Linked DNA regions of Homo sapiens: region 2 is linked to region 1. The links come from fine-mapping of genetic effects on gene expression. A gene starts in region 1. The other region holds a variant in brackets. All regions are shown on one strand. Distances are from middle to middle.

Region 1 (15,323 bases):
ATTCCTTCTCTGGGAAGCCCGTTTTTTCTCTTAACATCTTGGACTAATTGGATTAGGCTCACACACATTATTTAAGGTAATTTACTTAAAGTCAATTGATTATAGATGTCAATCACATCTACAGAATATTTTCACAATGATATCTAGACTTATGTTTCAAACAACTGGGTATCATAGTCTTGCTAAGTTACCACATAAAATTTAACCATCACAGTAATCATACTTTAAGAAATACATTCACGATAACAGTATTTCTATCCTATAATATAATATTGCATTCGTAATCAGCAATTATGTTGCTATCTATAATTTTGCCTTAAATAAATTTCAATTGTTCTATTTCGATGTATGCTTGTCAAAATATTATAAAGATATGTTGAAAAACTACTTCTGAAAGAATTTATTCTCTTTCATTTTATGAGCTTCTTTCATTGAGCATCTATTATATAGTCATATAATGGAAACAAGGAGATAAAATGATAATGAGAGGATGGTGATGATTATACTTGTAATAGTTGTTGTAAACTTTTACTAAGCACTTACTATGGGGCAGGTACTTTTTAAAGTGCTTTACCCATATTATTTTACATATTACCTGAAAGATGAGCCACTACCCTCAAAATGCTCATAAATAGTAAGAAGAGACAAATGAGGAAAGAGAAAAAACAATATAATAAGCATTATGCTGCAGGTAAAGGTGAAGTGATTTGAAGAATGAGTAGACGTAGTTGTCAATGGAAGGATTGGCCTACTATGATCTCTCGAAGTGGTTGTCCCACTTTTCTTTAAAAGACTTTGTGGGCTGGGCACAGTGGCTGATGCCTGTAATCCCAGCACTTTGAGAGGCCAAGGCAGGTGGATCACCAGGTCAGGAGTTCAAGACCAGCCTGGCCAAGATGGTGAAACCCCGTCTCTACTGAAAATACAAAAATTAGCCAGGTGTGGTGGTGGTGGGTGCCTGCAATCCCAGCTACTCAGGAGGCTGAGGCAGGGAATCGCTTGAACCTGGGAGGCAGAGATTGCGGTGACCCAAGATGGCACCACTGCATGCCAGCCTGGGGACACAGCGAGTCTCTATCTCAAAAAAAAAAAAAAAAAAAAAAAAAAAAAAAAAGGCTTTGTGGAACTTATAGTCTCTGTTGCAATTACTCAACCTTGTCACCAAAGGTGAAGAATGAGTAGACATTAGCCATTTGAGGAAGGGGGAAAAGGATTTTCCAAATAGTTGAAGCAGCAAATGCAAATTCCTGAAGTCTTGAAATAATACAGTGTCTTCTAGAGAGGCTGTAGATCAAGAGCCTAGAAATGAGAATTGTAAGGTAGACAAGGGTTACTATTCCATAGTCACCATAAAAGTGTTTTTGCCTACTGTGATGGCTGTATTTCCAGACTTTTTTTTTTTTTTTTTTTTTTTGAGATGGAGTCTCGCTCTGCTGCACAGGCTGGAGTGCACTGGCGCGATCTCGGCTCACTGCAACCTCTGTCTTCTGGGTTCAAGCGATTCTCATGCCTCAGCCTCCCAAGTAGCTGGGATTACAGGCTCCCACCACCATACCCAGCTAATTTGTGTATTTTTAGTATAGACAGGGTTTCACCATCTTGGCCAGGCTGATCTCGAGCTCCTGACCTCAGGTGATCTGCCTGCCTTGGCCTTCCAAAGTGCTGGGATTACAGGCGTGAGCCACCGTGCCTGGCCTCATATGGCTTTTGAAAGAGAATCAATCTGGCCAGGCATGGTGGCTCATGCCTATAATCCATCACTTTGGGAGGCCAAGGCAGGTGGATCACGAGGTGAGAAGATGGAGATCATCCTGGCTAACACGGTGAAACCCCGTCTCTACTAAAAATACAAAAGATTAGCAAGGCATAGTGGCACTCGCCTGTAGTCCCAGCTACTCAGGAGGCTGAGGCAGGAGACTCGCTTGAACCTGGGAGGCGGAGGTCGAGGTGAACCGAGATCGCGCCATTGCATTCCAGCCTGGGCAACAAGAGCAAAACTCCTTCTCAAAAATAAAATAAAATAAAATAAAAAATCCAATAAAGACCAATACATAATAGTCTAACCTCAGAGTTTTTTTTTTATACTTGACAGTCTGAAAACTACATATAATTCTGACTTCTTATGTTATTTTGTGGCTGCTAAAGCCCTCCAATAGATAAAGAGGTGGCAATTGTCTATGAAAAGAGTCACCATCTGTAAAATATGTGAAGAGATTTATTCTGATCCAAATATGAGCGACCATGGCCCATGACACAGCCCTCAGGAGGTCCTGAGAACATGTGCCCAAAGTGGTAGGGGTGCAACTTGGTTTTATACATTTTAGGGAGGTATAAGACATCAATCAAACACGTTGAAGAAAAACATTGGTTTGGTCCGGAAAGGCAGGGGTGATGGGGGCTTCCAGGCTATAGGAAAATTTAAACATTCTGATTGATGATTGGTTGAGTTTGTCTAAAGACCTGGGATCAGGCTGGGTGCAGTGGCTCACGCCTGTAATTCCAGCACTTTTGGAGGCTGAGGCAGGTGGTTCATCTGTGGTCAGGAGTTCGAGACCAGCCTGGCCAACATGGTGAAACCCCGTCTCTACTAAAAATACAAAAAAATTAGCCGGGCATGGTGGTGCACACCTGTAATCTCAGCTACTCTGGAGGCTGAGGCAGGAGAATCACTTGAACCCAGGAGGTGGAGGTTGCAGTGAGCCGAGATCGTGCCACTGCACTCCACCCTGGGCTGTGCAACAAGAGTGAAACTCCACCAAAAAAAAAAAAAAAGACCTGGGATCAAGAAGTGTTCAGATGAAGATAAAAGACTGTGGAGACCAAGGTTCTTTTGAAGTCTTATAGTGGCTGCCCTTAGAGACAACAGATGACACATGTTTCCTATTCATACCTTTAAAGGGTGCTAGACTTTTACTTAATCTCTTCAGGATTGGGAGGGCCTGGAAGAAAAATATCTAGCTGTGTTAATAGAGATTCTTTACAGATGCACATTTTGCTCCACAAAGGACAGCTTTGCAGGATCATTTCAAAATACGTCAAAGAAACATATTTTGGGGTAAAATATTTTGACTTTCTTGTCAGGTTGGAAAGTAAGTCATGATACATGGGTTTTATACCCAACTGATGAGAATTTATGGTTTGTAGGGCGTGACTCCCCAGGTCCCTTAAATAGGAATTTGGCCAACATTTTTAAAAATCAGAGTTTAGTCCTCACAATGCATGTGTGTTTTCTTTTCTTTTCTTTTTCTTTTTCTCTTTTTTTGAGACAGAGGCTCGCTTTGTTGCCCAGGCTGGAGTGCAGTGGCACGGTCTCAGCTCACTTCATCCTCTGCCTCCCAGGTTCAAGTAATTCTCGGGCCTCAGCCTCCCAAGCATCTGGGATTACAGGTGCCTGCCACCTCAACCAGATAATTTTTTGTATTTTTAGTGGAGACAAGGTTTCACCATGTTGGCCAGGCTGGTCTCGAACTCCTGACCTCGTGATCCGCCTGCCTTGGCCTCCTAAAGCACTGGGATTACAGGCGTGAGCCACCGCACCTGGCCCCTTTTCTTTTACTTTCATCTTCTTTTTTTTTGGTCTTGCTCTGTCACCCAGGCTGGAGTGCAGCCTGGAACTCCTGGGCTGAAGTAATCCTCCCACTTCAGCCTCCTGAGTAGCTAGAAATATAGACACACACCACAACACCTGGCTAACCAAAAAACAAAACAAAACAAAAAAAACAAAAAAACTGTAGAGACAGGGTCTCTCTATGTTGCTAAGGCTGGTGTATGTTTGTTTTCAAGCTAGGAATGTTCATGATAGGTTAGAGAAAAGGTAGAATAAACTGGCATTTTGTAGTGCCAATATGGTATCACACTAATAGCCCCTTAGGAAATAAAATACTAACACACGTTTATTGAACACTTACTATTGGTTAAGTACTCTATTGAGCACTTTACATGAATTGGGTCAATGTAATTTAATTCATGTAATAATTCTAAATGGTTACATTTTTACTATGTGTTACATATTGTTAGTAATTTCATTCTATATGTCAGGAAACTCAGGCATGGAGAAGTCTATTAATTAGGGTTCAGTCATGGAAAAATGAAACCACTCCAGATATTTCAAACATAATGGTATTTAGTACAGAGAATTAGATGCTCATAAGTTTGTAAGGGCTGGAGGAGCTACTGTCACATTGGTTTTCTTTCTTTTTTTTTTTTTTTAGACAGAGTTTCACTCTTGTCACCTAGGCTGGAGTGCAATGGTGCGATCTCGGCTCACCGCAACCTCTGCTTCTGGGTTCAAGCAATTATCCTACCTCAGCCTCCTTAGTAGCTGGGATTACAGGTGCCCGCCACCACGCTTAGCTAATTTTTGTATTTTTAGTAGAGACAGGGTTTCATCATGTTGGTCAGGCTGGCCTTGAACTCCTGACCTCAGGTGATCCGCCTGCCTCGGCCTCCCAAAGTGCTGGAATTACAAGCGTGAGCCACCACGCCCAGCCTCACATTGGTTTTCATTTGTGCTGCTGCCTCTGTGGTCCAGAGAATAAGAAGGGTGCTGCTTCTGCTGCCCAAAGGGCAGAAAAGTTCAGAAAACCACTGTTGTCACAGCTGCCTTTAAATAACTGAGACAGGGACTGGTGCGAAAGAGAGCCAAAGCCTAAGGAAAAAACCCACAATAACATGTATCTCTGCCACTTTTCAAATTTCAGGAAGTGCATTACACTGGGTAAAACACAACTGAATCCAGAATACAGGAGGCAAGGGCTCCTGGGAAATGTAGTTCATAGGGTTTCCGCCTTGCCTTAGGGAGTGCTGAGAAGTGTGTGGAATGAATGCTTGCATTTGTTTTCTATTGTTGCCATAAAAAGTTACCACAAACATAATGGCTTAAAACACTACCCACTTATCTCACAGTTCTATATAGAAGTCAGAAGCACAGTGGACTCAGCTGGGAACTCTGCTTAGGGTCTCAATAGGCTGTCAGCCAGCTAAGGCTCTGCAGAAGAATCTGCTTCTGGGTTCATTCAGGTCGTTGGCAGTACTACTTTCATTCTCAAGGTTTACATGTGGTCCCCCTCATCTTCAAGCCAGGAACCATGGGCTGAGTTCTGCCTGTGCTTTGAAAATCTATGACTTTCCTTTCTGCTGCATCTGTGTGACTTGTCTTTTGCCTTTAGGGATTCACGTGATTACACTGTACTCACCAGGGAAATCCCGGTTAAGTTCTCCATCTTAAGGTCAGCTGATTACAACCTTAATCATATTTGCAAAGTCCCTTTTGCCATGTAAGGTGACTTATAACCATAAGACGCACACTAGGAGACAAAGATCATGGGAGTACAAATTCTGCCCGCCACAATCCTCAATGGAAGAAAACTATCAAACAAGAAAGCATTCCAACACAAAAATGTAAAGAATTTACTCAAGATAATTGATATTCTCAGCTTTATTAATTTTAATAATAATAGTTACTATACATCAAGTGTCTACTATAAGTCAGGAAATGTACAAGCAACTGTATCTGTTATTATGTTAAGCATTATTTTAAAAAGTCAAACAGCAAATTGAGAGACTTCATAGTACTTCATATAGCACATTATGTGAATGAATTTATTTATTTATTTATTGAGATGGAGTCTCGCTCTGTCACCAGGCTGGAGTGCAGTGGCGTGATCTTGACTCATTGCAACCTCCTTCTTTCAGGTTCAAGCAATTCTCCTACCTCAGTCTCCCAAGTAGCTGGGACTACAGGTGCGCACCATCATGCCCAGCTAATTTTTGTATTTTTAGTAGAGACAGGGTTTCACCATGTTGGCCAGGATGGTCTTGATCTCAAGTGATCTGCCCACCTTGGCCTCCCAAAGTGCTGGGATTACAGGCATGAGCCACCGCACCCAGCCAACAATAAACTTTATTAACATAATGTCCAGTAAATATCAATTATTATAATTTTTTTATAGAGATGGGGTCTCGCTATATTGCCCAGGCTGGTCTCAAACTCCTGGGCTCAAGCTATCTGTCGGTCTTGGCATCCTAAAATGCTAGGATTACAGGTGTCCACCTGGCCTATTATATTACTATTGTTAAAATGACATACAAGATATCCTAGTACCTTAAATAGACATAACATTTCTAAAGGCTAGTTACTCACTGTTAACTGAATTAAGTCCAAATTCCTTATCTGACTGCAACTTACTACCTCCCACTCCCTCCCACACTATCTCTCTTAGCAACCCTATAATTATTTTCAAAATCATGTTCTAGAACAACAAAAAATGTGCAAAGATTAGGATTGTTTTACATTTTTGCTAATTTCCTTAACGTCTGACTTAATACAGTAAGACTCTCTCTCTCTTTTTTTTTTTTTTTTGGTTTTTGAGACGGAGTCTCACTCTGTTGCCCATGCTGGGGTGCAGTAGTGCGATCTTGGCTTACCACAAACTCCACCTCTCGGGTTCAGTCGATTCTCCTGCTTCAGCCTCCCGAGTAGCTGGGATTACAGGCACGCGCCACCATGCCCGGCTAATTTTTGTATTTTTAGTAGAGATGGGGTTTCACTATGTTGGCCAGGCTGGTCTCGAACTATTGACCTCATGATCCGGCTGCCTCAGCCTCCCAAAGTGCTGGGATTACAGATGTGAGCCACTGCGCTTGGCCTCTCTCTCTCTCTTTTCTAAGACAGTCTCTTGCTCTATCACCCAGGGTGGAGTGCAGTGACACTATCACAGCTCACTGCAGTCCCTAACTCCTAAGCTTAAGCGATCCTCCCGTCCTCTCAGCCTCCCGTGTAGGTGGAAGGATGCAGCTAACTTTTTATTTTTACTTTTCTAGAAAAGTGGGTATCTCACTTTGTTGCCCAGGTTGGTAGTTAGATTCTCATGTCTGCTTCTGTATTCAATCTGTAGCAATATCACCCGTCGATTTTCCAGAGGCTTCTAGAAAATTCCATGTACTCTCCTGACTCAGAGAATGAAAAAAGCAAAATCATCTTTATATTATTATAAAAATAGTATAATTATAAAAATAGGATTGACATTAAAGATTACCCCTAGATCCCTGGAGCATATTTGGGGAACTGGCTGGTTGGAGTATGTTATTCCATTGATGACCCAACCTAGATTGTCCGGACTTGCCTCATTTTTCTCCTAACTGGAAGTGACAAGGCAGGCAGCTCTAGCCTCATGACAAGCGTGGTGGCTCACGCCTGTAATCCCAGCACTTTGGGAGGCCGAAGCAGGTGGATTACCTGAGGTCGGGAGTTCATGACCAGCCTGATCAACATTGAGAAACCCCGTCTCTACTAAAAATAAAAAAAAAACTTAGCCAGGCACTGTGGCGCATGCCTATAATCCCAGCTACTTGTTGGGGGCAGAGGTAGGAGAAGCGCTTGAACCCGGGAGGCGGAGGTTGTGGTGAGCCGAGATCGCGCCATTGCACTCCAGCCTAGGCAACAAGAGCAAAACTCTGTCAAATAAATAAATAAATTAATTAATGAAAAAGAGGGCATTATGGATCTAATCTACTGTTGTATTTCCTGTATTTTCTACACAGTGGGCATTCAGTGACCACCTGTTGAGTGAGTTCATGGCATCCAAGTGCACAGCCACCTAAGGCATCGGGCCTCATGAAATCACAAGCAGCCAAGGCTGGCAGGTTCCTGGGACAATTTAGCAAACTCAAGGCTATGGTGCGGGTGGGTGCAGTGGCTCATGCCTGTAATCCCAACATATGGGGAGGCAGAGGTGGCGGATCACCTGAGGTCCAGGAGTTCAAGACCAGCCTGGCCAACATAGTGAAACCCCATGTCTATTAAAAGTACAAAAATTAGCCGGGCATGGTGGTGCACACCTGTGGTCCCAGCTACTCGGGAGGCTAAGGCAGGAGAATCGCTTGAACCTGGGAGGTGGGAAATGGGGGTACAGTGAGCTGAGATCACGCCACTGAACTCCAGCCTGGGCGACAAGAGCGAAACTCCGTCTCAAAAAAAAAAAAAAAAAAAAAAGACTACGGTGCTAGGACCAATCTCCTGAGTCACAAAATTTAAGGAGTCGTCCAAAAAAGTAAATAAGATAAATATTTTCAAACAATATTAGAAAATTCAAATCGGAAACTACCGACCGGGTGAGGAGTTGTTTTTGTAAATAAGGTCTTATTCCTAATAAGTTTCGAAAGTCTAAATCTTCACACGAGTCACTCAAAAGAAAGGCCCAGCTCAGGAGCCTGCATCTGCGCTATGGCGGGTAAGCCCCGGTGGCTGACCGGAAGAAGCGCCCACGGAGGCGAACCCCAGGCGCCCCTCAGCCTACTTCCATTTCCCCTCGCGACCCTTCGCCCCGCCCACTCTAGCTGGCTGTGCCTGACTGGCTGGGCTGCCGCATATTCGCGCTGCCATTGGTCCATAATCAGCTGGGGGTGGGCGTAGGGAGACCTACTTCAGCAGGTCCTGGCCGGACCAGCATTGTTAACGGCTGCGGTTCGAAGTGGCTGTGGGTATTGCTGCGGCTGGTGCGTCGTCGCTCTAGGTACGTTGGGGCCGGGCGAGTGTCCTGCGAGAGCGGCGATTGGCGGGGTGGCGGCTCTAGGAGCGTCGGTCGCCTCTCTGAGGGCCGGCCCCGGAGGCCTCGGAGCGCCGGGCCTACCGGACGTTTGCGGCGAAGCTGCCCTGACTGAAAAGCGTCCGCGGGGCCGTCTGACAGGTCCGGGAAGAGGCCCCTGAGGGGCGGACGGGCGCGTCTCCACCGTTTTCGCAGAGGGATACTGGTGAAGCGGGAGTGGTGTGCGGCCTCAGGTCCGGGCGGCACTGGGGTTAGGGACTGCGGAGGGAAGTGGTGCGTGTTTTTTGTCCTGAGGGGTAAGTAAAAGCTCGCTCTTGTCCGGAATGCTTTCAGAAATTAACGGATAAATCTCCACCTCCACCAATTTTAGTGTCCCATTGCCAAATTTTCTTGAGTTGTTTTAATCATCTAATGAAGTCAGGTGCCAGAAGGCAACTGGATCTCGCCTGGCGGCCTTGAAGTTTGTTAAAAAGTAGGGACCAGAGCATCAGGAAAAATACAAAATTCTGAGTAAAATGCTGAAATCCCGTACCTCTGAGCTTGCCGGTGTAAGGATGGTAGGATTTAAGGAAGACGATTTCCTTAAGGTAGAAGTTCGTTTTTATGAATATGTTTTTAAGAAAATTCCATCTTATCGCCCTTCTCTAACCAGTTTTCTCCAAGTTTGGCAAGCAAGTTTGAGAAAGAGAGGACGCAATAATTTTTTTTGCCTTATTTTTGTTAAAACCTTACCGCACTTAAGGAAACGGACTTTCTACCTTTCCGTGTTTCTGTGTTGAAAATGAAGTTTCTAACCACGTGTTCCTTCCTTTACGACACAATGGCTTTTTCTGTTCTGAAGACTTGCATATGGTTAATATGTATGGAAGAAGAGGACAGTTGTACTGAATAGTCCACATTAGAAAAATTATGTCATATTCACTTAAATTGTTATTCTAGATTGCGACTTAATACTGTTTTTATTATGATTTTGTCATATTTATTGTAGCCAGTAAATGACCTGCGACATAACTATTTGCAAAACAAATGGGGAAGACCAAGATAAAGATAAGTTATATCACAGGAAAGCAATTGAAAATGCAAAAATGAAGCATCTGAATGAAGGACTAATAACACTGAATTCAGCTTTTGTGAAGTATGCCTTTCTTCTTAGCTCGTTTATTCTGCAATACGTTTGTAGAAGTGTTGACTCCGATCTTAATCAAATTTACTTCACTCTCAGTCTTATCTGCAGATATGTACAGACCACATCCTAAGATTGACTTCTGCCTCAACAGAAATACATGAGCCAGTGCCTTATTGGAAATGATTTGCGTGTTTTAAGAACTGGTGTATATAGGTACATCTTGAATGTTCTGCTTTCCTTGCCTTATGCCTGTACTTCACCTCAGCCTTCAATTCCATTGTGTTTCCTTGCTACTTGGTATCTTGAAATCTGGTACGAAACTATTGCATGATCCCTGCACCTTTGCTTCTGCATATATCATAGCTCTCTTATAGTGAGTGTGCACAATCTATTTCATTTGATGTAATCAAAGTTTAATATATTGGATAGTTAAAAATAAAATACAACTTTAAATGCGCAAGAGTATTAGTTCTCATTGTTGAGCGAGATGATACAAAATACCAAAAAATCTTATTCTCTCATTCTATGTCAGTCTATTTTACTCCCCCCCCCTCCCCCCGCCACCCGGACACACACACACTGCGGTGACTTATCTATCTCGTTTATTTTATTTTATTTTACTTATTTATTTTTCTTTGTGAGGCAGAGATTCGCTCTTTGGCTCAGGCTGGAGTGAAGTGGCGCGATCTCGGCTCACTGCAACCTCCTCCCTCCGGGTTCAAGTGATTCTCCTGCCTCAGCCTTGCAAGTAGCTGGGATTATAGGCGCCCGACTAGTTTTTGTATTTTTAGTAGAGATGGGGTTTCACCGTGTTGGCCAGGCTGGTCTCGAATTCCTGACCTCAGGTGATCAGCCCGCCTCTGCCTCCCAAAGTGCTAGGATGACAGGCGCTAGTCTTAGCGCCCGGCCTATCTCATATTTTTATATCATTTAGATAATTATTCTGCTTTACAGTAGACTAGGATAGTTTTTCATCTTCATTTTTACCAACGATGGGACAGATTGGAGTCAGCCAGTGTCTAGAGAGAAATAACCATGACTTTTTGGAGGAAAGGGAGATAATATATTGGATTTTTTTGAACTTCTGATTAAGCCATGAAATGTTTAGAGAGGTGTTACTGAAGTTAGCCATGAATTATTTAGAGGCATTATATGTGTCTACTAAATGTGGTCATAAGTTTCATTAGTATACCTCTGAGGCTCTAGTGTGTACAGTATGCTGATGTGAAATAGCTTATCAGATAGCCATGGCAAAAGTTGCCAAGGCCTTTTTAGTACTCTTTACTAAGGAGACAGTGACTTTGGGAGGCTTTTCAGTACTTGTTATTAAGGAGAGAATAACTCTGGGTGGCTTTCCAGAGGTTTGTTTTTTAAGTGAATATTCATTAAACAGCATTAAAACTACTGTAAGAAAGGCATGTCACTGAAGATATAAAAAATATTTGTAGGCCGGGCGCGGTGGCTCACACCTGTAATCCCAGCACTTTGGGAGGCTGAGGCAGGTGGATCACGAGGTCAGGAGATTGAGACCATCTTGGTTAACATGGTGAAACCCCGTCTCCACTAAAAAATACAAAAAAATTAGCCGGGCGTGGTGGCCGGCGCCTGTAGTCCCAGCTTCTCGGGAAGCTGAGGCAGGAGAATGGCGTGAAGCCGGGAGGCGGAGCTTGCAGTGAGCCGAGATCGCACCACTGCATTCCATCCTGGGCGACAGAGCAAGACTGTCTCAAAAAAAAAAAAAAATTATAGTGGGAAATTTAGATAAAGAAGTAGTAGTTCTCTCGGGGCTGTTTTTTTGAGGAGGTGATCTTTAAGCTTGATCTTGAAAGAGCATAGACTAGGAGGGAAGGTTGATAATATGACAGTTCTGGTCAATTTGGAAAGTGAAGGTTAGGTTTATAAGAAGGTTCAGTTGATATCTCCAGGAAAAGACAAACTACTGTGAAAGAAAGATAGTGTAGTCATGGTAGTCTATCTGGCTATATAGAGAATATTTATAACAACTTAAATATTGATTTAACTGAAAATACGATGAGCTGTAAGAGACGTGTGAACTACAGAACTGGATCTACGAATGACAGGAGGGCAGACCACAGTGCTTTTCACATCCTCCCCTCCTTCCCTTGGGCATAAGACCTGGCTATAGGAAATCTAGCTAATTACAAGAACGTCTTTATAATTTGGAGGGAAACTCTTGGAACTGTGAGTGCTCCCCGTCCAGTGTTACCATCCCCTACCATCCAATTAAAATGTTTCCAACCCACCTCCAAAAAAAATACATATGTGAGCTAAATCTTCATCTGCAATTACAGGAAATCGACATGGCTAAAATTTGTAACTCAAGAAACAGTATGAAAATATTTTAAAATACTGAGATTTTAAAAACAAGTTGTTAAAATTAAAGTGATTGCCATTAGATATTCGGGAGTGCTGGCAAGCAACTGCTTTATTTCATAATGAGCATTTTATACTATTACATTGATAAAACTTGAAAAAAGTAATGTCAGAATTCTATTAGCATTCAGGTGATGCGGATGCTGCTGGTCTATGAACCACACTTGGCATTACTTCATGGTCATTATGAGATTAACTGCCACCTGGCCTGAGTTTTGTTATTTTGTTAACCACTATATAACTCTTAAAGGGCCCTGTCGCTTCATAATAACTGTTTTGTGTTTGTGATAGACTTCTTCGAGTCTTAAGACCCTCCGTTCAAATATTGGCTGAAGTACCTGACTTTGAACAAGATTAGTTAAATGGGTTTTTTCTAAATTTTTACTTTTTAAAAAGAGTAACAGTAAAAATTCAGTTCAGTAGTTTTTTTTAATTTAATGAGAATTGTTCTTATTAAAGTGTTTATTATGTATTAAGATACTACCTTGGAGAACATCACTGGAGAACAGAGATGTTTTATAATGGAGAAACCCAATGAAGCAGGAAAAAACCCAACTAAATCAGCATGCACCCATAACTTCGAACTATAACAGGAAAAAAGATTAAGCTAACTTTTAACCACAAAGATACAGGAAATATGTTATTGCTTGGAAAGTAACATGCTTGTGAATAATCTACAGGTTAAAAAATTACAATGCATCTTAGAGAATATTGGATAAATATCAAATTATAAGGTAGAGTTTTTCAAAACTTGTGGGCTCAACTAAAGTAGGGCTTAGAGGAAAATTTACAGCTTTAAGTGAGAAATTAGAAAAAAAGGTAATAGGCTGGGCATGCTGACTCATGCCTGTAATCCCACCACTTTGTGAGGCCAAGGTAGAGGATAACTTGAGGTCAGGAGTTTGAGACCCACCTGGGTAACATTACACAGGACCCTGTCTCTACAAAACAATGTTTTGTAAAATTAGCCAGCCATGGAGGGACACACTTGTAGTCCTACCTCCTTGGGAGGCTGAGGCAGTAGGATTACTTGAGCCTAGGATTTTGAGGTTGCAGTGAGCTGTGTTCATGCCACTGCACTCCAGCTGGGTGACAAAGTGTGACTCTAAAAATGAAAAGGAAAAAGAGAGACTGAAAAAATATCTGAGTTTTTACCTGAAGCTGCAACAAGAACAGCAAAGCAAACGCAAAGAAAGCAGAAGGAGGGTAGGGCATTGTAGCTCACATTTGTAATCCCAATGGTTTAGGAGGCCAAGACTGGAGGATTACTTAAGCCTAGGAATTTGAAGCCAGCCTGGGCAGCATAATGAGACCCCATCGCTATGAAAAACAATTAGCTGGGTGCAGTAGCATGCGCCAGTAGTCCTAGCTACTCTGGAGAATGAGATGGGAGAATTGCTGAGCCCAAGAGTTCAAGGTTACAGTGAGCTATGATCGCGCCATTGCATTCCAGCCTGGGCCACAGAGAGAGACCCTGTCTCAAAAAAAAAAAAAAATGTGCTGGGCGTGGGGGCTCACACCTGTAATCCCAGTACTTTGGGAGGCTGAGGTGGGTGGATTGCTGGAGCCCAGAAGTTCAAGACCAGCCTGGGCAATAAAAATTTTAAAAAGACCAGGCGCTGTGGCTCCCAGCTACTCAGGAGGCTGAGATGGGAGAATCACTTGAACCCAGGAGGCAGAGGTTGCGGTGAGCGGAGATCTTGCATTGCACTCCAGCCTGGGCAACAAGAGTGAAACTCTGTGTCAAATAAAAAAAGAAAAGGAATATGGCAGGAAATTATGAAATGGAACACTGTATAATAGGAAGCTAGCAAACTTAAAGTACTTTGACAGCCTCTTTTTGTCTTTTTTGTATTTTTGTTGACTTTGACAATCTTGGTACATGTTTAATAAAAATGATCAAGAAAAAGAGAAAAGCACATCACTAATATCAAGAATGAGGCCGGGTGCAGTGGCTCATGCCTGTAATCCCAGCACTTTAGGAGGCCAGGTCAGGTGGATTACCTGAGGTCAGGAGTTCAAGTCCAGCCTAGCCAACATGGTGAAACACTATCTCTACTAAAATACAAAAATTAGCTGGGCATGGTGGTGCACGCCTGTAGTCCCAGCTGCTGGAGGGCTGAAGCAGGAGAATTGCTTAAACCCGGGAGGTGGAGGTTGCAGTGAGCTGAGATCGTGCCACTGCCTTTCAGCCTGGGTGACAGAGTGAGATTCTGTTTAAAAAAAAAAAAAGAAAAGGAGGGACAGCACTACAGGTATTACACATACAATTAGAGAATACTATAAGAACTTTGTGTTGACAAATTTTAAATTGTGTTGAAATGGAAAAATAGGTAAAATTGACACCAAAAGATATAAAAAGTATGAATGGTTGTATTATCTTTTTTTTTTTTTTTTTGACGGATTTTCACTCTTTTCCCCAGGCTGGAGTGAACGGGCAAGATCTCAGCTCACTGCAACCCCCACCCCCCAGGTTCAAGTGATTCTCTTGCCTCAGCCTCCCAAGTAGCACCCGCCACCATGCCCAGCTAATTTTTGTACTTAGTAGAAATGGGGTTTCGCCATGTTGGTCAGGCTGGTCTTGAACTACTGACCTCAGGTGATCCACATGCCTTGGCCTCCTAAAGTGCCGGGATTATAGTCATGAGCCACTGCGCCTGGCCTTTTTTTTTTTTTTTTAAACTGGAGATGACATCTCCAAGATGGTTTTGAACTCCTGGGCTGTTTGAGCCTTGGCCTCCCAGAGTGCTAGGATTACAGGTGTGAGCCACTGCTCCCAGCTGGTTCTACCTCAATTTTAATGGAAAACCTTTACCACTAAGTTAACCCCAGGCCCAAATGGCATTAGTGGTTAATTATTCTAATATTTAAGGAAAAATAACACCATTCACACAGAAATTGTTCAGAGACTAGAAAGACTTTGTAGTTTGTATGAGGTCAGCAAACCTTTGATATCAACACCCAATAAAATAGACCCATCTCTCATTAACATTGATATAAAAATTATAAACATAATGTTAGCCATTTATAGGCCAGGCACAGGCCCATAAATTGTCTAATGTCAGCACTTTGGGAGGCCAATGCAGGAGGATTTCTTGAGCCCAAGAGTTGAAGACCAGCCTGGGCAACATAGTGAGACTCTGTCTTTAAAAAAAAAAAAAAATTAGCTGGGTGTGATGGGCGCCCCTGATGTCCCTGCTACTTGAAGGGTCAGGTTAGAGTCTTGTTTGAGTCCCGGAGGTTGAGGCTGCAGTAAG
Region 2 (15,323 bases), 56 kb before region 1:
TATATATATTTATATATATATTTATATATATATTTATATATATTTACATATATTTATTTACATATATTTATATATATTTACATATATTTACATATATTTTTATATATTTACATATATTTATATATATTTACATATATTTACATATATATTTACATATATTTTTATATATTTTATATATATTTATATATATATTTTTATATATTTTTATATATATATTTTTATATTTTTATATATATATATATATATATATGTATGTATGTATATTTGAGACAGGGTCTCGCTCTATTGCCCAGGCTGGAGTGCAGAGTGGCATGAGCTTGACTAAGTGCAGCCTCACCCTCCTGGGCTCAAGTGATCCTCTCACCTTAGCCTCCTGAGTAGCTGGGACTGTAGGCAACGCACCATCATGCCTGGCTAATTTTGTTCATTTTTTGTAGAGACAGGGTCTCACTATGTTGCCTAGGCTGGTCTCAAATTCCTGGCCCCAAGTGATCCTCCCACCTTGGCCTCCCAAAGTTCTGGGATTGCAAGACTGAGCCACTACGCTCAGCCTTAGCTTTGTTATTAATTTGGAAGGCTTTTACATCTGTTTCCCAACTGATGGGAGTAAAGACATGCCCTTGCTATGTAGGTCTAAGAAGCAGCTGCAGACATGGCTTACATACCCCCAGCCCCCATTCCTTCCTCTCTCAGTTGCTCTTCCTTGAACCATACCTGCCCCCCCCCTCCAACGTCCTCTTCTCTCTGCCCAAGGGCTGGCGTCTTGGTTGTTTTCTCTTTTAAGCCAGGCTCTAAGTGTTTACTTCTCTTGTTCTATAATGATTTCTCCCTTTCCCAGAGACATGTGACATTTTTCAGCTCCTTATTCTTTTTTCCAAGGGCCTTTATCTGCTCCACTCCCATCTCACCAAGGCCAACCACATTTGTTATCCTCAGAGGCATGCTTTTTATCCATTTTACCCTGTGCACAGCAGCTGGCCCCTACATAAATGAGCTACATTCTCAGCAGCTTTAAGGAAAGAAACTTGAAAGAAGGGGGAACCAAGAAGATATAAAGTTGGGCACCCCTTCTAATAAGGCTTCGAAAGCAGGGGTCACATGGAAAGGCAAGGACTTTCTTTTTTTTTTCTGAGATGGAGTCTCACTCTGTCACCAGAACGCAATGGCCTGATCTCAGCTGACTGCAACCTCCGCCTCCCAGGTTCAAGCAATTCTCCTGCCTCAGCCTCCCAAGTAGCTGGGACTATAGGCACGCACTACCACACCGAGCTAATTTTTGTATTTTTAGTAGACATGGGTTTTCGCCATGTTGGCCAGGCTGGTCTCAAACTCCTGACCTCAAGTGGTCCACCCGCCTCGGCCTCCCAAAGTGCTGGGATTATAGGCATAAGCCACCACTCCCAGCCGACTCTGTCTTTAAAAAAAAAAAAAAATCCGTATTCCTTTTCGTGTTTTTATGGGTCATGGGGTTGTCAGAAAAAGGAAAATTCAAAAGAAACTGTTAACAGTGACCCACAATAGCTACAGTTAGGCACATGGTTTATAAACCTATGACTATATGGCCGGGTGCAGTGGCTCATGCCTGTCATCCCAGCACTTTGGGAGGCCAAGGTGGGTGCATCACTTGAGGTCAGGAGTTCAAGACCAACGTGCCCAACATGGTGAAACCCCGTCTCTACTGAAAAATAGAAAAATTAGCTGGGTGAGGTAATGGGTGCCTGTAATCCCAGCTACTGCAACAGCTGAAGCAGGAGAATTGCCTGAACCTGGGAGAAGGAGGTTGCAGTAAGCCGAGATCATGCCACTGCATTGCAGCCTGGGCAACCAAGCGAGACTCCGTCACAAAACAACAACAACAAAAAAAACCCTATGCCTATAAACTAAAGCTGACCTCTTGCCTGTGTGCCTGTGTAACTGGAGCTTGTTAAACATTTCACTGACAGGTACTGGGTATAAACTTGTTTATCTGAGGTAGAACAAAGACAGGCTGGAATCAGCCACCCTCCACCAGGCCCTAAGATGCCTAACCTTTCTCCTGACCCGCTCAACTGCTCTTTTACCTTATCTTATGTATACAGTCACGGAGCACCAATGAGAATCACAAAAATGTAACCCTTGCTTCTCTCCCCTCTTCTCCTACCTTCTGTGCCACACACATCCTCCTGTTTGAAAATGTGTATATACTGTGCCTTGCACAACCTACATTGGGACAGATTCTTGGTCTATATTGAGTATGTGTTCCCAGGCTTCAGTCCTCCAACTTGACTCAGAGTAAATCTAACCGTGATTTCTCTAAGTGCTAGCACTTGTAATTTCACTTTTTGGTTGGCAGGGTCACAGATTTTTTTCTCTCCTCCCTAAAGCTCTTCCCCTGGTCCACCCATCTTTTTTTACCTGCAGGTATATTTGCACAGAGAAACCAGAACTAACAAAAATCTACAGTTATGACCATTATCAATACCCAGTTTCGGAAAGTTTCTGTGGAAACTCCCTATGATCAGACAAAAATATTGGCCTGTGCATAGGAATTCAGTAGTGGCCATTTCAAAAGCAAAGTCTATAGAAAGATGTTAAAATGAAAATAAATACACTAGCCAAAAAAAAAAAAAAAAAAAAAAACCCCAGCTCAGCCAGGCGAGGTGGCTCATGCCTGTAATCCCAGCAATTCGGAAGGCTGAGGCAAGAGGATCACCTGAAGTCAGGAGTTCGAGACCAGCCTAGCCAACATGGTGAAATCCCGTCTCTACTAAAAATACAAAAATTAGCCAGGCATGGTGGTGTGTGCCTGTAATCCCAGCTACTTGGGAGGCTGAGGCAGAAGAATTGCTTGAACCCAGGAGGTGGAGCTTGCAATGAGCCAAGATCGTGCCATTTGCACTCCAGCCTGGCAACAAGAATGAAACTCCATCTCAAAAAAAAGAAAGAAAAGAAAAAGAAAGAAAAGAAAAAAAAAATAGGCTGAATTGCAAATACAACAAAGACAAGTGGAAATTTATAGCCCAGAAACAGGGTAGGGATCCATGAGTGGAAAATTAGCTAAAGGAAACATTAGTGGTAAGAGAAGAGGATTCTGGCTAAATGGACCTAACAGGACTCTTGCTGCAGGTAAGCCAGGGTGATCTGGAATGTGATCAGATATCCAGGGTTGAGGATTCTGGCTAAACTGACTTAGCAGGATTCTTGCTAAAATTGGGCGATACAAAAAAAAAAAAAACACCATGGAAGTCCAAGAGTTGAGACCTAACTGGGAAGAGGATTTCGATGAATCTCCCTAAAGCTTGGTCAAGGGGAGGCTCTTTGTCAATCCTTAAGACAACTACTCTAGCCAACCACAGTGGCTCATGCCTGTAATCTCAGCACTTAAGGAGGTCGAGGCGGGTGGATCATTTGAGGTCAGTGGTTTGAGAACAGCCTGGCCAACATGGTGAAACCCCATCTCCACTAAAAATACAGAAGTTAGCTGGATATAAAAGTGTTATTCTCTTTTATAAATGAGAACATTGAGGGGTACAGAGGGCTACTAGCTGTGGCATTCAGTATACCATGCTTAGCCAGGAGATTTTATGGAGGGAATGGTGGGTGTAGGTCAATCTGCCATACATGCAGCCACTTCTTCTCAATCAGTGGTCACTTAATCCTCTCCTTGTACCTCAACTTCATTTAGAGGATAATTAACTACCGTAGGAGTGAAAAGGTAATAAGTTATCCTCACCCATTACAAGGGTCATTGCCAACACTCCTACAACAAAAGACAGATTAATAAGAGAAAAACATAACAAATGAATTTAACAAAATTTTGCATGACACGAGAGCCTTCAGAAACAAAGACCCAGAGGAAACTGTATTTTTATGCTGAGATTCACTGGAAAATGAACAGTTGTGTACAAAGATGATTTGACAAGAAGAGTATGATCTACTGTTAATAAACTGGGGGTGGTGCAGGGCCTCTGGGCATAGAGCAGGATCTCTCTGGAATTGTCACCAGAAAGGGGTTCCTTTCCAGACCCCAAGAGAGGGTTCTTGGATTTCACTCAAGAAAGAATTTAGGGCGAGTCCATAGAGTAAAGTGAAAGCAAGTTTACTGGAAAATTTAAAAAAATAAACAAATGGTCCAGGCATGGTGGTTCATGCCTGTAATCCCAGCACTTTGGGAGGCTAAGGCAGGTGGATCACCTGAGGCTGGGAGTTGGAGACCAGCCTGACCCACATGGAGAAACCCCGTCTCTACTAAAAATACAAAAATTAGCCAGGTGTGGCTCTGGGTGCCTGTAATCCCAGCTACTCAGGAGGCTGAGGCAGGAGAATCACTTGAACCCAGGAGGCGGAGGTTGTGGTGAGCCGAGATCACGCCATTGTATTCCAGCCTAGGCGACAGAGTGAGACTCCATCTCAAAAAATAAAAAAAATAAATAAAAGAATAGCTATTATTCCATAAGCAGAGCAGCCCCAAGGGCTGCTGGTTGCCCATTTTTGTGGTTATTTCTTGATGATATGCTAAACAAGGGGTGGATTATTCATGCTTCCTCTTTTTAGACCATATAGGGTAACTTCCTGACGTTGCCATGGCATTTGTAAACTGTCATGGTGCCGGTGGGAGCATAGCGATGAGGACACCCAGAGGTCACTCTCATCGCCATCTCGGTTTTGGGTTTTAGCCAGCTTCTTTACTGGAAGCTATTTTATCAGCAAGGTCTTTATGACCTGTATCTGGTGCCAACCTCCTATCTCATCCTGTGACTAAGAATGCCTTAGCCTCCTGCAAAAGCCGCCCAGTAAGTCTCAGCCTCATTTTACCCAGTTCCTATTTAAGATGGAGTTGCTCTGGTTCAAGTGCCTCTGACAGAATGAGGATCTTAGGTCCTACTTTCAGGCAAGGTAATGTAACTGTGTAACAGATTCTCCTTGCCCACTGCCTCGACAGAGCCAATTTAAACTGATGCATTAAGACAGGGGAATTGCAATAAAGAAAGAGTTTAATTCACACTGAGCCAGCTGTACGAGAGACCAGAGTTTTAATATTACTCAAATCAGGCTGCCCAGAAACTCAGGGATTGGGGTTTTTAAGGATAATTGGATGGGTGGACATTTGGAAGGTGGAGAGTGCTGATTGGTTAGGTCAGAGATGAAGTCATAGGGAGTGGAAGCTGTCCTTTTGCGCTGAGTCAGTTACTGGGTAGGGGCCACTAGACCAGATGAGCCAGTCTATCGATCTGGGTGGTACCAGCTGATCCATCAGGTACAAGGTCTGCAAAATATATCAAACACTGATCTTACGTTTTATGATAGTGATGTTACCCCCAGGAGCAATTTGGAGAGGTTCAGAATCTTGCACCCTCTAGCTACATGACCCCTAAACCATAATTTCTAATCTTGTGGCTAGTTTGTTGGTCCTGCAAAGGCAGTCTAGTCCCCAGGCCGGAAGGGGGTTTGTTTTGGGAAAAGGCTGTTATCATCTTTGTTTCTAAGTTAAACTATAAATTAAGTTTCTCCCATAGTTTAGCCTATGCCCAGGAATGAACAAGGACAGCTTGGAGGAGAGAACCAAGATGGAGTCGGTTGGGTCAGATCTCTTTCACTGTTATAATTTTCTCAGTTATAATTTTTGCAAAGGCACTTGCAATCAGCCAGAGAATTCCTTTATGGCCGGCTCTCACACTGAAAGGTAGGGGAGGGTCAGAGCCGCTTTCTTGCTTCTGAGGCTATTTCAGTTGCCAAGATGCCACATATCGGAGTATCATGTTCTGAGAACCAACAGGAGTAACCTTCAAGGCCTCTCAAGGTGAAACTCACATATTCTTTGTTTTGTTTTGAAACAGGGTCTCGCTCTGTCACCCAGGCTGGAGTGCAGTTGCATGATTATAGCTCACTGCAGCCTCCAACTCCTGGGCTCAATCGATCCTCCCGTCTCAGCCTCCCAAGTAGCTGAAACTACAGGCATGTGCCACCACACCCAGCTAATTTTTTTTATCTTTATTTTTATTTTTTGAGATAGAATTTCACTCTGTCACTCAGGCTAGAGTGCAGTGGTGCAATATTGGCTCACTGCAGCCTCTGCCTCCCGCGTTCAAGTGGTTCTCCTGCCTCAGCCTCCCAAGTAGCTGGGACTACAGGCGTGCACCACCTCACCCAGCTGATTTTTTTATTTTTAGGAGGGACAGGGTTTCACCATGTAGGCCAGGCTGGTCTCAAACTCCTGACCTCGAGTGATCCACCTGCTTCAGCCTCCCAACGTGCTGGGATTACAGGCATGAGCCACCACACCCGGCCACCCAGCTAATTTTTAATTTTTTTGTAGACAACGCCTTGCTGTGTTGCCCAGGGTAGTCTCAAATTCCTGGGCTTAAGGATCCTCCTGCCTTGCCCTCCCAAAGTGCTAGGATTGTAGGTGTGAACCACCATGCCCAGCCAGAACCCACATATTCTTCTTTGCCTGTATTCCAAGTGAAGAGCATCAGGACATGCTACCCTAAAATATGCCACTTTGACATAAGAATTATTTTGAGCTGAAGGCATTTCATTTTCTAAAACCCCTAAAATAAGTCAAAGAAACTCAATTGTCATAAATCCCCTTCCCAGGAACAATTCTACTCTTCTCAGAGAGGAGTCGCCAGCACACCCAAGCACTCATTGTCACAAGACCATCATATCTCCTATCTGTTCTCATAAGGGCCCATTCATCCTTCCAAAAAGTCATTTGCTTTTCCATAAATGCCCTTTCACTGCCCCCTCCCACCTGTCCTCTGCTAAGTTAGGTATTATAGAGCCCCCAATTTTTATGTATTAGTTATTATTATTATTATTATATTTTTGAGATGAAGTTTCACTCTTGTTTCCCAGGCTGGAGTGCAATGGTGTGATCTCAGCTTTTTGCAACCTCTGCCTCCTGAGTTCAAGCGATTCTCTTGCCTCAGCCTCCCGAGTAGCTGGGATTACAGGCGCCCGCCACTAGGCCCTGCTAATTTTTGTATTTGTAGTAGAGACGGGGTTTCACCATGTTGGCCAGGCTGGTCTCAAACTCCTGACCTCAGGTGATCCACCCTCCTCGGCCTCCCAAAGTGCTAGGATTACAGGCATGAGCCACCATGCCCGGCCTATTATTATTTTTTTGAGACAGGGTCTCATTCTGTCACCCAGGGTAGAGTGCAGTGGTGCAATCATGACTCACTGCAGCTTCAACCTGGCCTAGAGCCCAGATTCTAACCACTGCTTTTGTCAGAGGCCTTAAAACCAGCATGCCTCCATCTTGAGTGAGGGCTAGGAAAATGAGGCTGGGACTTACGGGGCTGCATTCCCAGAAAGGTATTCCTAGCCTCTAGATGTTTACAGTTAAGGGAACAGATTGATAGTGTTTACCGAACAGACTCAGACTTGGGAGTGTCCAGATATCCCGATATCTGGAGAGCAAAGGCATCCCTAATTTTGGTTTAAAGATAATAGGCCTGGCATGGTGGCTCACACCTGTAATCCCAGCACTTTGGGAGGCTGAGGTGGGCAGATCACCTGAGGTCAGGAGTTCCAGACCAGCCTGGCCAACATGGCGAAACCCCGTCTCTACTGAAAATACAAAAATTAGCTGGGCATGGTGGTAAACACCTGTACTCCTGGTTACTCGGGAGGCTGAGGCAGGGGAATCGCTTGAATCTGGGAGGCAGAGATTGCAGGGAGCTGAGATAGCACCACTGCAATCCAGCTTGGGTGACAGAGCAAGATTCTTTTTTTTTTTTTTTTTTTGAGACAGAGTCTCACTCTGTTGCCCAAGCTGGAGTGCAGTGGCCCCATCTCGGCTCCACCTCCCGGGTTCATGCCATTCTCCTGCCTCAGCCTCCCGAGTAGCTGGGACTACAGGTGCCCACCACCACGCCCAGCTAATTTTTTTAGTAGAAACGGGGTTTCACCACGTTAGCCAGGATGATCTCGATCTCCTGACCTCGTGATCCTCCTGCCTCGGCCTCCCAAAGTGCTGGGATTACAGGCATGAGCCACTGCGCCCGGCTGCAAGACTCTTATCTCAAAAAGAAAATAATAAAAATAGGCCGGGCATGGTGGCTCACGCCTGTAATCCCAGCACTTTCGGAGGCCAAGCTGGGCAGATAACCTGAGGCCTGGAGTTTGAGACCAGCCTGACCAACATGGAGAAACCCCATCTCTACTAAAAATACAAAATTAGCCAGGCATGGTGGTGCATGCCT[G/A]TAATCCCAGCTACTCGGGAGGCTGAGGCAGGAGAATCGCTTGAACCTGGGAGGTGGAGGTTGCAGTGAACCGAGATTGCACCATTGCACTCCAACCTGGGCGACAGAGTGGAACTCCGTTCAAAGAATAAAAAAAAAAAAAAAAAAAAAAGCCCCAGAACTTGTGACATTAACCTGTGCTTGCAGATGTGCTTGCTTACAGAAATGAAGGCCGGATGTCAGTAACCACAAACGAGCCACAGGATAAGAACTGTGGCTCCCAAGTCTGAGTCTGTATAGTAAACACTACCATCCTGCTACCCGGACCTGAATCCTTGCTTTTTCGCTGTATGAAAATATTCACCTGGGATGGGGAGAAATGTGCTTTGCTAGGCATATATAGTGCCAGTGGAAAAGAAAGAAGGAGACTGTGCATGCTCCAGTTCTCCCTGGAAGGTCCCACCTTTTTCCATAAATCACCACCCCCCAGTCTCCACCTACATGTTCTAAGAGACCTTAAAAACCCCCCTTCACCATACCCTCAGGGAGAAGGTGCTTTGAGCATGTGCTCTACTTCTCCATTTCTTTTCTTTTCTTTTCTTTTCTTTTCTTTTTTTTTTTTTTGAGACAGAGTTTTGCTCTGTCGCCCAGGCTGGAGTGCACTGGTGCAATCTCGCCTCACTGCAACCTCCGTCTTGCGGGTTCAAGCAATTCTCCTGCCTCAGCCTCCCAAGTAGCTGGGATTACAGGCACCCACCACCATGCCCAGCTAATTTTTTTTATTTTCTGTACAGATGGGATTTCACCATGTTGGCCAGGCTGGTCTCGAACTCCTGACTTCAGGTGATCCACCTGCCTCAACTTCCCAAAGTACTGGGATTACAGGTGTGAGCCACCACGCCCGGCCTGAAATTTTTTTTTTTTATCAACACGGAACTCCAAAAGTTGAAACCTACTGGACAAAGAGTTTAGGAGAACCTGAGTAGAGTTTGGTGAAGAAGAGAATCTCTGTCACAGGTCATTTGAGTGTTTGAATAGAGCATTGTTCTACGCTTGACATCGGGGACTCTATCTTGGGCTACTGACCCCAGACTGAACTAATGATGAACTTTTTTTTTTTTTTTTTTTTTGAGACAGAGTCTCTGTCTCCCACGCTGGAGTGCAGTGGCACGACTATGGCTCAGTGGCTCACTGCAGCCTCAACCTCCCAGGCTTATGCAATCCTCCTGTCTCAAACTCCTGAGTAGCTGGAACGACAGGTGTGCACCACCACACCCAGCTAATATTTTTGTATTTTTTGTAGAGACAGAGTTTCACCATGTTGCCCAGGCTGGTCTTGAACTCCTGGGCTAATCTGCCTGCCTCAGCCTCCCAAAGTACTAGGATTTTAGGTGTGAGCCACTGTGCCTAGATTGGGTGGTGGACTTTGAGACCCACAAAGAACTGTGAAAAACAGTTCTCTCACAAACAACCATGCTCTCGACAATATACAATACAAGGAATCTGGTCCTAATCTTTAGGGACAGTCTGTGTAGTTTTTTCCTAACTGACCCAAATGTACCCTTCCACTAATGACTAACAACTTCTTTGCTTAATCCATCAATAAAATAATCTGGTAATTTATGTCATCTGAAAAATTTCCTATAAGCCTTTCTTGTCCCTCTTGGGTGGTGGTCTCTGGGGCCTGGTTGCAACCCCCATTCCTGAATAAATGCTTATTTGCCTCTGACCTGTTGATTCCTTTTTTTTTCTTTCTTTCTTTTCTTTCTTTCTTTCTTTTTTTTCTGATAGTCTGGACAAAATCTGAACAGAATTTACAGAAAAGTAGAAGAGAGAATAATTGAAGCATCTCTTATTGGGTCAGGTGCAGTGGCTCACTCCTGTACTCCCAGAACTTTAGGAGACTGAGGCGAGAGTATCACTTGAACCCAGGAGTTCAAGACCAGCCTGGACAACAGAGCAACACCCCGTCTCTACAAAAAGTAAACAATAAATTAGCTAGGCTTGTTGTGCGCGTCTATAACCCAGCTACTCAGGAAGCTGAGGCAGAAGGAGCACTTGAGCCCAGGAGCCTGAGGCTGCAGTAAGCTATGATGGAATGACTGCACTACAGCCTGGGCAACAGAGTGAGACTTGTCTCCAAAAAAATAAAAATTTAAAAGAAAATCTTATCTCTGGATTGCCTCCTGTACTCCTCCTTCTATGTCAGCCTTGGAGGTGCGTGTTTACAGTTCCAAGGATCAGAAAGCCCATAATTTTTTTTTTTTTTTTTGAGACGGAGTCTCGCTCTGTGTCGCCCAGGCTGGAGGGCAGTGGTGTGATCTCGGCTCACTGCAACCTCCACCTCCCGGGTTCAAGCGATTCTCCTGCCTCAGCCTCCTGAGTAGCTGAGATTACAGGTGCGTGCCACCATGCCCAGCTAATTTTTGTATTTTTAATAGAGACAGGGTTTCACCATGTTGGTCAGGCTGGTCTCAAACTCCTGACCTTATGATCACCGGTCTCCTCAGCCTCCCAAAGTGCTGGGATTACAGGCATGAGCCACTGTGCCTGGCCTCAGAAAGCCCATGATTTTGTGCTATGAAATCAAAAGGCTGGACCTTGTAAAGGAGCCAGTGGTCACCTCCAGCTCCCCTTTAGCTCCTATGTGGGCTCTTTGGCTGGATCTAGACACCAAATTGACACCATGCAGATTAACAAAAGTATATACATTTTATTAGTTTTACCTGTACATGGGGGTCTTCATAATAGCGTGAAGTTCAAACAAGTGGCTAAAGATAGATGCTTGTATACTATTTGTACACTATTTAGATTACATTTGAGAAGAAATGACAGGAAAACCTGGCTAGGGCAATAAATTTTCTAGGGGAGTTGCTAGGAGATATATGGGGGTGTCAAACAGTGGAAGATAAAGATTGTTTCATTAAGTATGTTTATTCAGGTCCATCACAGTCCCCAATTCCCAGTCTCTGGTGATAAGGGCTATTTTCTCACCCTGGTATGTGACAGCCCTCCTCCCAGAGGAATTTTTATGGCCTGCTGCATGCACAAAGAGAGAGGTCAGTTAGCCCTTTTTAATTTTTTTTTTTAGAGCAAGGTCTTGCTCTTGCTCTGTCACCAGGCTGGAGTGCAGTGGCATGATCATAGCTCACTACAGCCTCAAACTCCTGGGCTCAAACCATCCTCTTGCCTCAGCCACTCAAGTAGCTGTGATTACAGGCATGCTCCACCAAGCCCAGATAATTATTTCACTTTTCTTTTTATAGAGATAGGGTCTTGCTATGTTGCCTAGCTGGTCTCAAACTCTTGGGCCCAACCAATCTTCCTGCTCGTGAAGAATCACATTCTTGGGCCCGAGCACGGTGACTGACACCTGTAATCCCAGCACTATGGGAGGCCAAGGCAGGCACATCACTTGGGCTCAGGACTTCAAGACCAGCCTGGCCAACATGATGAAACCCCTTCTGTACTAAAAACACAAAAATTAGCTGGACGTAGTGGTGTGTGCCTGTAATCCCAGCTACTCAGGAGGCTCAGACAGGAGAACTGCTTGAATCTAGGAGGCGGAAGTTGCAGTGAGCTGAGATCACGCCACTACGCTCCAGCCTGGGCAATAGAGCAAGATTCCATCTAAAAAAAAGAATCATTTTTTTGTTTCTTGTGAAGATCCCCATGTACATGTAAAACTAATAAAATGTGGGCCGGATGGGGTGGCTCATGCCTGTAATTCCAGCACTTTGGGAGGCTGAGGTGGGCAGATCACAAGGTCAAGAGATCGAGATCATCCTGGCCAACATGGTGAAACCCCGTCTCTACTAAAAATACAAAAATTAGCTGGGCGTGATGGCGCATACCTGTAGTCCCAGCTGCTTGGGAGGCTAAGGTAGGAGAATCGCTTGAACCCGGGAGGCGGAGGTTGCAGTGAGCCGAGATCGCACCACTGCCCTCCAGCCTGGGTGACACAGAGAGAGACTCCGTCTCAAAAAAAAAAAAAAGTGTATATTTCCTCTTGAGTGGGTGTGGTGATGCACACCTACAGACCCAGCTACTCAGGAAGCTGAAGTAGGACAAATGCTTGGGCCCAGGAGGTGAAGGCTGCAGTGAGCTGTGATTGCGCCATTGCACTCCAGCCTGGGCAACAAAATGAGACTCTATCTCAAAATAAATAAAACAAGCAAACATACCAACCACAATTTCATCAATGTTTTCAACTCGAAATAATCAATATGCCAATCTAGCATATTTTGGGTTGGCACGTTCTTCACTCCTTCAACTTTTTGTGGGGCCTGTTATGTTTTTAAGGAGACACCCTGGGAGGAAGGAGGAGAAGGCCATCGCCTCCCCCCTCATTATTAAACAAAAAAAAGGTTGCTCCCCTTGTCCCTCCTCTGTCCCACTGGTGCCTCTTCTGTCAATTCTGCCAAGATTCCACCCTCAACTCCAAATCAAGAAATGCATCTGAGGCCACTATATGTGTAAAAAACCTTCCTGAAGGGCAGGAGAACTCAGGAGGCATTATACATTTCATCCATGCACTATCAACCAACACTGGGGAGCCACAAACAAAGGGAGGGACTTTTATTTTATTTTATTTTTATTTTTTTGACACAGAGTCTCGCTTTGTCATCCAGGGTAGAGTCCAGTGGCACGATCTCAGCTTACTGAAAGCTCTGCCTCCAGGGGTTCAAGTGATTCTCCTGCCTCAGCCTCCCGAGTAGCTTGGATTACAGACATGCGCCACCACACCCGGCTCATTTTGTATTTTTAGTGGAGACGGGGCTTCACCATGTTGGCCAGGCTGGTCTCGAACTCCTGACCCTGTGATCTGCCCATGTCGGCTTCCCAAAGTGCTGGGATGACAAGCGTGAGCCACCGTGCCCCGCCCATTTTATTTTTGAGACAGAGTCTCGATCTGTCACCCAGGCTGGAGTGCAGTGGAGTGATCTCAGCTCCATGCAATCTCCACCTCCCAGATTCAAATGATTCTCCCACCTCAGCCTCCTGAGTAGCTGGGACTACAGGCATCCGCCATCATGCCCGGCTAATTTTTGTATTTTTGTAGAGATGGGGTTTCCCCATGTTGGCCAGGCTGGTCTGGCATTCCTGACCTCAGGTGATCCACCATCCTTGGCCTCCCAAAGTGCTGGAATTACAGGCGTGAGTCACTGCACCTGGCCCAGGAAGGCATTTTAATCAGGGTTTTTATGCATTGCAATTTGGGAGAAACAAATCTAGCAAGTAGCTAAAACGTGTTTCAGCCAGGCAAGACTCTAGGCAGGGGTTTCTAAAGGTTTACTGCAAGTTTACCTAAGCGGAAGACAGTAGCACAGTCTGTGATTGACACATGACCTGTCAACCTCAAAGGGAGAAGCTGAGACAATATTAATATAAAGTTTATTTGGGTCAAGGTTGAGGGCAGCAGTCCAGGACACACTTCCAACTTGCTGTGGGGCGTGCTCCAGAGGACATTAGAGAGGCTGAAGTTTTTAAAGAAAAAATAACCAATGAGGAGAGAGGGTGATTACAAACATTGTTAGGAATTCTCATGGGTTTACAGAAATAACATTGGCTAGTGATTGGCTATATATTGGTGAACTGTAGGGCATTTGGTATTTTAGGGGTACGTGGCCTTAGTTAAGTGTAGAAGCCACACAGCAAGTGGCTTCAAGAGGTGATTATTATTTGGCTGGGTGCAGTGACTCAAGCCTGTAATCCCAGCACTTTGGGAGGTTGAAGTGGGAGGATGACTTGAGCCCAGGAGTGTGAGACCAGCCTGGGCAACATAGGGCGACTATATCTCTGCTGAAAACTTTTTAAAAATTTAGCCGGACATGGTGGTGCACACCTGTAGCCCCAGCTACTCAGGGGTGAAAGCCAGAGGATTGCTTGGGCCTAAGAGTTTGAGACCAGCCTAGACAACACAGTGAGACCCTGTCTCTACAAAAAATTTAAAAATTAGCCATGCATGCTGGTGTGTGCTTGCAGTCCCAGCTACTCAGGAGGCTGAGATGGGAGGATCACTTGAGCCCAGGAGGGGGAGGCTGCAGTGAGCTGTGACGGTGCCACTGCAGTCCAGCCTGGGCCACAGAGGCGGACCCTGTCTCTGAAAAAAAAAAATAAAAAATAAGGTGATTATTAATTCAAAGGGAAGTAACCTAACTGCTGTTTCATTTCAATGCCTCTTTGGCCTGATGGCTTAAAGGGGCCTGTATTCCTTGAATAAAACATTTCTTCTTGTTTTTTTCATTTGTTTGTTTTTTCCTCCCCCTATAGGCCAGCTGACAGCTTAGAAAGACTCTAGGCCATGATCAGCTTAAAATTCAGCACAGCTGTGTCTTCAGGAGGTTCGTGATCTGCCCCAGTGTGAGCAGTTCAAACCCAATGAAGCTGCTTCTCCAGAACGTTTGCGATCTGGCCCAGTTCAAACAGGTCAGATCCCTCTGGATCCATATATGACTGAGGGCCAACTTTTGCCCTCCTGGCTCCTTGACAGAGACCTCCGACAAATCATCTCCACGTTGGCTTTCTTTCTTTTTTTTTTTTTTTGAGACGGAGTTTTGCTCGTTTCCCAGACTGGAGTGCAATGGCGCAATCTCGGCTCACCGCAACCTCCGCCTCCTAGGTTCAAGCGATTCTCCTGCCTCAGCCTCCTTAGTAGCTGGGATTACAGGCATGTGCCACAATGCCCAGCTAATTTTGTATTTTTAATAGAGACAGGGTTTCTCCATGTTGGCCAGGCTGGTCTCGAGCTCCCGACCTCAGGTGATCCGCCCACCTCGGCCTCCCAAAGTGCTGGGATTGCAGGCGTGAGCCACCACGCCTGGCCTCCATGTTGGATTTCTTTTCACAGCACTGTGTCAAAATATAGCAGGAATTATTGCAACAGCAACTGTTATTAATCACACCGTAGAGCAAATCATAAGAAAACTGCAAGAACATCTTTTTTTTTTTTTTTTTTTTTTTGAGACAGGGTCTCACTTTGTCTCCCAGGCTGCAGTGCAGTGGCATGATCAGGGTTCCCTGCAGCCTTGACCTCCCAGGCTCAAGTGATTCTTCCACCTTAGCCTCCTGAGTAGCCGGGACTACAGGTGAGCGCCACCAGGTCCTGCGAATTTTTGTAGTTTTCATAGACACAAGATTTTGCCATGTTGTTCA

Evidence for each region.
Region 2: its variant is fine-mapped to the expression of ATF7IP2 in whole blood (TOPMed, PIP 0.99).

The regions. Positions count from the first base shown.
Region 1 is chr16:10,377,610-10,392,932 of GRCh38, forward strand. ATF7IP2 (activating transcription factor 7 interacting protein 2) reads left to right here and starts at 8,452. Exons shown (of 14, transcript NM_001393719.1): 1 at 8,452-8,513. RefSeq lists an enhancer at 4,806-4,875 and silencers at 5,076-5,145, 8,191-8,330.
Region 2 is chr16:10,321,270-10,336,592 of GRCh38, forward strand. No RefSeq gene overlaps it. Among named protein-coding and RNA genes, the nearest start is that of ATF7IP2, 57 kb to the right of the region's middle. RefSeq lists a cis regulatory region at 1,873-2,194 and silencers at 8,283-8,577, 10,290-10,490. The variant G/A (reference allele first, on the strand shown) is at 8,190.